2 separate regions of the Homo sapiens genome follow, and region 1 is linked to region 2. Evidence: fine-mapped expression QTL. A gene starts in region 2. The other region holds a variant in brackets. All regions are shown on one strand. Distances are between the middles of the regions.

Region 1 (5,198 bases), 72 kb before region 2:
TGTGGGAAGGACTGGGAAGGGAATGGGGGAGGCCCTGTGAGTCTGTTTTTTTTTTTTTTTTTTTTTGAGACAGAGTCTCACTCTGTCGCCAGGCTGGAGTGCAGTGGCGTGATCTCGGCTCACTGCAATCTCCACCTCCTGGGTTCAAGCAATTCCCCTGCCTCAGCCTCCCGAGTAGCTGGGACTACAGGCACGCACCACCACACCTGGCTAATTTTTTGTATTTTAGTAGAGATGCGGTTTCACTATGTTGGCCAGGATGGTCTTGATCTCCTGACCTCGTGATCCGTCTGCCTTGGCCTCCCAAAGTGCTGGGATTACAGGCGTGAGCCACAGTACCCAGCTGTGAGTCCGCTTTTTACTCAGAGCCCTTAATCACTATGCTCTCTACCTCTAGGGGAAGGTGAAAGGATGGGAGAGGGCAGCCAAGCTCCTTAATTAAAGTCCCACAGGTCACTTCACTAATGCTGAACTTTCCCAAATCCACATGCTTTAGAAAAACTTGCCAAAGTCAGAACAAGCCCATCCAGCAAGATCAGGGCAGAAACACCACCTTCATAAAGATGAACACGAGAAGCCCTCCCTCTCCTAGGGTGACCCAGTCCCAGGCCCTGTGCTGAGCCATCTCCTGTAACAGAGCCCTCCAGTGGGTGAGGAGAATGGTTTCTGTCTGCTCCTCCATCCTGTGCCAGGCAGTGAGTCTGCCTGAGCTGCATCGACCAACAGCTGGTCCTCTGGCCCCCAGTGGTGGGCGGCCGAGGGAGCCAGGCCAGGCAGGAACATGGCCCGGGAGGCCAGCTGGGCTGTTCCTTCCGTAAGCCACGTTTTGGGGATTGCACAAATGCCCCCTGGCCTCACTCCCTCTCCTTGCTGGCCTCAGGCTGGGACCCACAACTCAGCTGCTTTCTCCAGACCCCTCCATTAAACTCTTTTTTTTTGCTCCCCACCCCCACCCCGCGCCCTCCGGAGGGTGCCTGCTGCAGACTGCCGAGACCCTGGCTAACAGAGGCAGGTGGCTTAACTTCCCTCACTCTGTGGATTAAGGGCTGGAGGTTTCAAAGAGTACACATAAAAAGTGACTCGTGGGAGGAAGAAAATGGTGAGCTGTGCTGTGGACTGTGGGCATGCCTGTTAGGGTACCAGGTGGCCTGGTGTGGCTGGTCCTCACCTTGGAGAACATGGTAGAAATGCAGGCTCCCAGGCCCCAGCCAGAGCTGCTAAGTCAGGCCCATGATGGGGGACCCAGGTGTCTATGTGTGAACTGCCCTTCCTAATGTAACGTGGCTCATACCTCCATGGCACTCTAGGAGCCACAACCCAGCTGGTGTTCCTTGACTCCAAAGTGACTGCTGTATGCCTCTCACAGCACTCGGCCCTGGGTGCTCACTATGTAGAATGTTCTCTACCCCATCCACCATGCACACCCCATCAACCCATCCTCAAGGCTCATCCCTTTGGCACTTTCTCTGACAACCCCAACGAAAAGTCTACCTCCTCGTACCTTACCCAGCAGCCCTGCTTTAATTCCAAGCAGGAAGTAACAAGGGTGAATGGATTGGTGCCCACCCTCTCCCCAGAAACGGGCCTCCTTGACTCATCCTCACAACCCCAGCACATGGCCCAGCCTCACCCCAAGATCTTGGGGAGAGAAGCCTCTGCTTCTCTGTGAGGATAGAGGGACAAGAATGCTCCACCACCCACCTTTCAAAGCCCAGGCTTCAGCAAAAAGCATCACAAGGTAGCCTGGGCACAAAACAGCGAGGAAGCAGCCCCTACCACCAGTCATTGGCGTTCCGTTTCAACTAGAGCATCAAATGCACTCTTGCCTCTGCTGGGTACCAACTAAACACTACAAGATGCACAAGAGGAACCAGCCCCAGAGAACCAGGGTATGTTGTTCATTGGGCGATTCAGGCAGTTTTCTTATCTAAAACTGCAACACACGGATGGAGGGGCAGCGGGAAAACTGGATGAGAGGAGTGCCATCATCAGTGCGGCGGGCACTGCAGGTGACAAATGGAAGGACTGCACAGCAGGCTGGACACTGGCTCAGATCCCAGGCCCCCACATGCTGGTTAGTCTTGGGACTCAGGGCAACTGCCTCACCTTCGGGGTATCTCCACACCTTCCTGAGGCAGAACGACCACTTCATAGGTCACTTCTGAGGTTCAAATTAAAATAACATAAATAAAGGGCTTGCCCAGCAACTAAAGGTACTGAGTGTTCGGTAGACAGCGGGCACTGACCTTACTACGGAACAGAGGGCCGGCAGCTTGCATAGGAGGTCTCTCTCTCCCTCTCTCTACAGTGGGTATCACGTGGCTGTGTCCTCAGCCTGCCCTGTGCACAATATTTTCAGAACCTGGAGAACGGCACAGAAGGCACACTTAATAACTCCACTAAGGTAAACAAAGACCAATGCCACAGAGAGCAGAATGACAGGGATTCGAAATGTCTTCCACCTGGGAGAATGCCCGATCATAACCTACAGGCTTAACAGGGATCAACTTTAAACATTACAGGTATGCAAAAACAGCCAACCAAATTAAAAAAAAAAAAAAAGCAACAGATGAGAACAGTGGATGAGAACTGCTCCTGAGGGTGCAGTTAAAAGGGGCTCTCCCAGCCCTCCCCCACCCCCTGAAACCCTCTCCTGCAGCTACCCTCAGATTTTTGGTGCAAAGGAGAAGACGCAATCCTACACGACCCACCATCCGGGTCCCAGAGCTCCCTGGGGCCTTCCTGCAGGCAGTTTCCCAAACCCCTCCTGCCCAGCCAGGGACATCAGCTGAGACGGGTGGGGCACATTGCTGGAGTCCACCCAAGGGCGCTGAGTCTGCAGATGAACATGTGAACTGCAACAGGGATGGGGTTTGTCATTTCACACAGGATGCACTTAAAGAAGTAAAATGTTTCAAACCGCAAGTCTATTAAGCTATTGCAGCCGAGTGAAGAGTGACTACCTGTGTCACCTGCATTTTGAAAGCGGAGGCATCAC[C/A]CAGCTCATCAGTTCCCTTCCAATGCCTGATACCCTCTCTACCAACTGCACATATGCCTGCTCTAGAACTCTGAACACACACAAGCCGTCAGATACAGTGTAGTTACAGATTTCACAACTACCCTCCCTCAGCCATGTAATTATACTTTTATTAAATATTAATGTAAAAATGGCAGGGTTTCTACTAATATTATAGTTCCTGGGTACCAGGTACGGTGCTAGACAGTTTACACACATTCCCACTTAAATCCTGTCTCTAATGGGTACTGTTGCTACCTCATCTTTACAGATGAGGAAAAAGGAGGACAGCAGCTTGCCCAGCGAATCACATCTCGTAAGCGTGGGTGTGAGACCCATTGGGGCTGAATCAGAGAACATGTCCTTAACAACCGAGCTATGGGTAACTACAAAATCTGTCACTCAGAGAATTCCTAAAACATGCAGAAACTCCACAAGGCTGAAAAAGGCTGAAAAAAAAAATCCTAAAACATTAGTGAACTTGGTAAAAGCTGCAGTATCAGCACTCCTATTCTGCCAGTTGCAAGGTGTACAAAACTAGTCCCTCAAATGGAAATAACCTTCATAATAAATGAGCCAGAGCCATTTTTCTCACCCAAAGTGACACTGCCTGTTTTGATATTACACTTTAGGTCTATGCAAGAGGAAAGGAAGCAAGAGGTTTTTAAGCAGAGATTTCAGTCAAACTGATCCTTAAACAAAAACAAGAGCTGCTTCCACCAAAAGCCTGAGATGGGGGAAAAAGAAAAGTCAGCAAGCCAGGTGTCTCGTATCAAGGAACAAGGGGGATGCTCTTTACTTACAATTGTATTCACACAGGCTGCTGAGGCCAACATGAAAATATCTGGGCAAGCCCTGGTCAGAGTACAAAAAAACTTTTCTCCCAAATGGTAAGAATGCCTGGCCTGGCAGGGAAAATACCACCACATAAAAAATGATCACATTTTCACTAAAATCATACGGCCTAAAAAACACACAGATCAGTGGCTTGTACTCCATATTCAGGCACTTATTTCCACATAACTACCTCCAAGTGCAGCCATTCTTGAATTAAAAGCAAAAGTAGTGCATGAGCTGCCTCACTTTAACCACCCACTCTGCAGTGTTCAGCACAGAAACATCAATTCTGGTTATTCACAAGGGGAGGAGTCTATCAATCATTTACATTTTAAACAGCTCTATTGAGATATAAATTACATAACATAAATTTCATCTGTTGGAAGTGTACAAACCAATGAATGTTAGTATAATTAAGGATCTGTACAACCATCACCACAATCTAATTTTAGAACATTTCCATCACCCTACAAAGAAACCTCCTGCCCAGAGCCTGTCAATCTTGACAAATGGTTTTCCCAAAATAAAATGCCTTTGCCAAGTCAGTTTTGTTCCTGTTTTTGCATCTGGTATTCCCACATCAATGAGGCATTTTGGCCGAAAGGGGGACAGCACTAGCTCTAGAATTTCTACAGAAGAGTAGCTACATGACCTTGGGGAAGACATTAAACCACCCTGTGTGAGTATAACCTCCAAGGACTATTGAAGATTTAGTGTGATCACACATGGAAAGCACGGCTCAGTAAATCTCAGCTGCTATTTTTACTACTGCCACTACTGCCCCTGCCTCCTCCTCCTCTGCGGTCACTACCTCCCCTCCCGACATTTCCACCAGCACTCCACCCCTTCCCACCACCTCCTTCCATCTCCATCACTTCTCCTGCCACATCAGCTCCTCCTCTACCTTCTCCACCTCCTCCACCGCCACCTCCATCTCCTCTACCACCCCCACCATCATTTCATTACCACCTCCATCATCACCTCCAGCACTTCAACCAACTCCTCTACCATCTCCACCATCTCCTCTACTATCTCCACCATCACCTCCACCTCCTCTGCTACCTCTATCACCTCCACCTCCTCCACCATCTCCATCCTCACCTCCACCTCCTCTACCATCTCCACCATCACCTCCACCTCCTCCACCATCACCTCCACCTCCCCCATCACCTCCACCTCCTCCACCACCACCTCCACCTCCTCCATTGTCACCTCCACCTCCTCCATCCTCACCTCCACCTCCTCTACTATCACATCACCTCCACCTCCTCCACCATCTCTATCCCTCACCTCCACCTCCTCCATCTCCTCTACCACCTCCACCATCACTTCCACCATCTCCACC
Region 2 (5,198 bases):
ATCACCAGAAGCCCCAGTAGTTACAAGGCCCAGAACACCACATCAGTTCTCAGACTTTATACTTGTAAGAATCACCTGGCATGCTTTACAAAGACAAAGAATTCCAGGTCCCAAGCCCAGAAAGTCAGTTTCGTAGCTCAGAGCTGGGGCCTGGGGATACATACCGAGAGGCAGTCAGCTCTGATGTAGGTGGTTCAGAGGTCACACCTTAAAAACCCTGGTCTCTCCTATACATTCTTCCTCCTGAGAATTATCAGAATGCAGCCTCCCAAGTCTGAAAGAAAGGTAAAACCATTCTAGTCCAAGCGAGTTTCCTAAGACATTCTTACTAAGTCACAAGTACATACTCCAAGAAGCTGCCTGGCTTTTGTGGGAACACAAGTGTCAGTGAATTTAGGCTGTGGCCTAAATATGCAAATTTTGGAGCCTAACCTCCAAAATTCGAAAGATGCAGTGTTCTCTCGAAGTTTGGAAGCCTAGTTCTGGGGTGGTAATTACATGATGGCTGGAGGAGCAACTGGTGATGGAAATCCTTAGGAGACACTAAAAATAACTCACATTTTAATCGACCAATCTGGAACTTCTCTCACCCCTTCATGCCAATCGTGCAATTACCATAACTCCATTCACCATGTTCCTCAGCAGTTAGTATGCACCATTCTCAGTCCTACAAGATAGTAACTATTATCCCTGATTCACAGGTCCAGGTACAACGGCAGGTAGCACAAGATGGGGAGGGGACTGAACCACACTGCACTCACACCCCACCCTACAATTAAAAACCGTCCTTCAGCGCGTGGCTGCCGAGCACCTCAAACTGAAACAAGTGTTCTTTACCACCTTTCTCTGGAGTGACAGAGAGAAAGAAAATCCCAGTAAGCCCTTCTGGCCCTGCCCACCACCTCCCCTGTTCCCACCCAGGCCAAAGGGGGAATGCGTGGGCCCTGCTCCCACCCCCGATGCTGACATCAAAGGAGCAGAGACACGCAGGAGACTCCAGGCAGCACCCGAGGCCCTGGCCGCCAGCACGTCATAATCCCTGCAGTCGCTGCCTTTCAGACTTAAAAAGAACAATGAGGAAAGACACCCACGCTTCCCCTCACTGGGCTAGGAAGGAGAGCTTTGCGGGTTTAGACTGCAGTCTCCCCCGCCCATAGCCACCTGTGTGCCGGCTCCGCAGACGAGGTCCCCCCAGCACCCTGGCAGGGACTGTACCATCAACAGACAAATGGCAGCCGACCAAGGAGGCGACTGGCGTGTGGAACAGGTGATCCGATTGTTTTTCTAAAGAGCAAGGGCTAGGACGTCCTACGTGTTCATATGCACAATTTTTTGAACTCCATCAAGAACACGAACCCCATGCCCACATCTTCACTGCTCAATTCACATTGTCTGATATGCACCTTCCAGGGAGAAAGAGGTTTTCATGGAGAAAGAGGCAACGTTGACTATACGTGTTTACTCAAAGCTTTTTTATACCGGACTATATGCCATCCAGGTTTAAGAGAATTCCAGGCAGGCTCTAGCATTATGTTTTTCACAGAAAAAGCCGGTGCAGTAGCCCGGATGCCCAGATCCACTCATTTCCCAAACCGGTTCCCACACCCGCTGCCCACCACCTGGCGAGGAAGGAGCGGGCGAGGTTCGCTCGAATCGTCGTCACGGGTTTCCGTGGGTACAGTTATTACTCGTTACATAATATTAAACAATTAAGATTAAAAATGGTTACATAATACTGTCCTATGGCTGGCGGCAACGAAGCTCGGGATCTCGGACTGCAGCGAGCCCGCGGCAGGCGGGCAGGGGGCCGCGCGGCAAGACCTCCCCGCCTCCCTCCCGGGCCCTGTCCGCCGCGGCCGGGGCCTCTGCAGCCTGCGCAGGCCGATCCGCCCGCCGCCCCGGCTCGCGCCCACCGCCCACCGCCCACCGCCCAGCGCCCGCGGCGGAGCCCACCTGAGTACCTGGAGAGCGGGCGGCAGCACTGGCCGCACGGGGTCGCTGCGTGTGCGCCGCCGGCCCGGGTAGGGCTTCGGGGCCCGGCCCCCGCAGTGCCCGGCGCGTGGACAGCGCTCCGCATGGACAGCGCTCGGAGCCGGGCCGGGCTGGTCCTCCACGGCTCCGCCCCGGCCAGGGGCCTGCGGCGCAGAAAACCGACCCGGGGCCTCGGGGCCACCGCGCGCCAGGCGAACGCGCTAGCACGAAAAGCGGGCCAACGCCGCCTCTGGGGACGCCATCCGGGCGAGGGTGGGATGCCGCGCCACCGCCCGAGCGTGCCCGGGGGCTCCCAGCGCCATCACCACGCAGGTGCCCGGGGGCCCCTCCGCGGAGCCGGCTGCCGCCCGGCTGCAATACTCAGCCTCCGAGGGACTGGGCGCTCCTGAGGAGCGGGAGGACGACGGAGCAGCGCCCGGTCCTGGAGCACAACAGGAATCCCAGGACCAAACCCATGTGACGCGGCCACGCCCCAACGCCCGGCGGGGGCCCTCTGCTGCCCAATCCCCGGATCCCTGGTTCTCATGGCAACCCTGAAGAACCCCTTGTTCCCTCCACTGCCTCCTCTCCTCCCCCACAGCCCCCCCGCCTGATGGGCAAGGACGCGCACACTGGCCACTCTGACGATGCCGAAAGCCCTCCATGTCTACCCGCTACGCCGCATTCGCAGACAGGCGGGGGACATCGCGGCCGCGGCAAGCTAGAGATGCCGCCTGCTCGAGCAACCTTCCACCTGCAGGGCCGGCCAGTTCTACTCTTCCAGGATCACTCTCGTCTCACCCTTCTCCCCAAAATGTCAGAGCAAGAACCAGGAAGGGAGAGGCTCTTTCTGGAAGCCACAGGCATAACGTTACTGAACAACGAGGACAAAGTAGGGTCCCATTTAAACTGAGAGTCAGCGAGGGAAAGAACAGATCCTATACATACCAAGCATCTGCTATGTGCTAGTCACTTCACACACACACACACCCCACACACACCTCACACACACACCACACACATCCCACCCACCCACTCACATACATACACACCACACACATACATACACACCACACACACACATACACCACACACACACATCACACATACTCCCCCACCCCCGCACACACATACACCACAGACATACACACGAGCCTGCAATGATGGAAGCAAAACAGAACGTTTGGAGATATTCACTGCCGTTTACAAGGCCACAGTAAGCAGTAAGCAGATTTTCTACTCCCCTCTAGCAGAGAACATGGTAGGAAAAGCTAGACATTGTAGACAGCAGTAAGAACCTAACAGTCAACAGTGGACAATGGATTCTGAAACTGAGATCCTATACTGCATTCACACACGTTAAGGGGCAGGGCGCTGGGAAAACCCCATCTCAGTCTGGGGTTCAAAGAGTGGAAAAGCTACCCTAGTCCAACTGCTCGGAGGCCAGGTCAGGCCCCTGAAGGTCACTGGAGGAGGAGGCTGGAAAAAGTGCAGATATGCACTCCAAAAGGAGAGGTTCCACGGTGGTCATGACCACAAAATTCCAATATGTTTAAGTCGATCAAACAAAAGCAGAGTTAAGGCTGGTTCTGAAAGCAGCCAAGAGCAGTTTTCAACACAACACAAAGGGTAACACAAGGCTTTCTTTTCTCACAGTCCGGGCTGACCACATATGGCCTGGCTACTGCAAGAAACATTGAAGGTGTTAGCGCTTTTGACTCTAACTGCGCACCCCTCAGAGAAGATGTCACATAGTGAACATCGCAAGGCACAGAATGGGAAATGGAAGCACAGAATCAAACCCTGAGATTCGGGGAGAAACCAAAGTGTGGAGAAATTATGTAACTTATCCAAAGTCCAGAGCAGGTTACTGACTGGGAGAACTTGGCTTTCCTTCCAGACTCCAGATATGAGACTTTTCTGCGGTCTGACACAGTGGCTTCTTCCACCTCTGCAGTCAACCCCACAAAGGTGGCTCGAGTGTTCCTCTGCCTCCCTGCCCAGCAGCTCCCAGCCTGGATGGTGAACTCCTTTGCCTGAACATCCCACGCACCCTGCCATCTCCTGGGCTAGAACAACAGGTTGTGCAGGACAGAGGGCTTCCCTGCCACACTCCCCTCTATTACAAAATGCCAGAGGTCCCAGTTCGAAGCAGCTGTTCCTGGATGTGGGAAGAGCAAGAGAGAAATGATCTAATGATGGACAAGGAATCTTGAAAAGCCAGACCTTCACTGAATGGCTGACAGGACACACATTTTGCTTTACTAGAACAAGAACAGAATCTTTGAAAAGGCATAAAAGCCAGTGGTCAAGAAGTAACTGACAGCAAAGGCAAAAGAGATGAAGGCTAAGCTGGAAAGTGGAGATGAAGCCTGATGATATACTCAGTGGAAGCCCAGAAAGTCTCAGGAATGAGAACTACCATTCACCTCTGGAAATGGGAAACGTAGAGTCCAAAACAAGAAGATTAATCGGAAGTGTCAGGAATAGCTGGGCCCCATTTCATCCCGGGTCCTCTCCCCAGCTCCATCAGCTAGGTGACTTCTTTTCTGGAAGCAGGGACACAGGTCTCTGGACCAGGATCAGCAGACACAGCCATGCCTTTAGTCCCAGAAAGATTTGGTGGATCACATGCTAGCTGCCATATGAATCCCACCACCATCCCCAGCAGCTCCTGGAGCAGCACCTCCAACAGAACTGAAAGAGGCTCCTGCAGAGCTGAGAAGAGACCCAAAAGCATGAGCCCCACAACAAGCAACCAGGCGTCCATCCACAGAGGCCACAGTTAAATGCTCACTCACACAGGGCTCCTGTCAGCTTCTGAGCAATGTCCTTTTGAAAGTGGGAAGACCCCAGACAGCTAAGCGAAGCCTCTAAGGTGAAAGATGTGGCCAAATTGCATGGGACAAACACTTCCTATGCCTCACCTCCCTGGGCCCTGTCCACAGCTCTATTGAGCCGCATCTGATGGGACCCCTATGTCCTGCAGCACAGCCTCCTCCTACCAGGGCTCTGAAGAGCCTGTACACCCAGCACCTGCAGGGATGTAGCCCAGATGCAACCCTGGCCCATGGTGACGGGCACTGACAGGAGATACATCCTCCACCCCAACCCCTTCCCAGCACTGTCTGGAGGACTGGGAGCTCGTGACACAAGCCAGCCCCACATGTGGAACCATTGGCTTCACTCAATTCTAGGCACTGCCCACCGCGGGCACCCCGCCTCAC

Evidence for each region.
Region 1: its variant is fine-mapped to the expression of GRB10 in whole blood (TOPMed, PIP above 0.99).

The regions. Positions count from the first base shown.
Region 1 is chr7:50,708,629-50,713,826 of GRCh38, forward strand. All of the region lies in intron 4 of GRB10 (growth factor receptor bound protein 10), which reads right to left. Among named protein-coding and RNA genes, the nearest start is that of GRB10, 72 kb to the right of the region's middle. The variant C/A (reference allele first, on the strand shown) is at 2,999.
Region 2 is chr7:50,780,463-50,785,660 of GRCh38, forward strand. GRB10 (growth factor receptor bound protein 10) reads right to left here and starts at 2,434. Exons shown (of 19, transcript NM_001350814.2): 1 at 1,962-2,434; 2 at 165-274.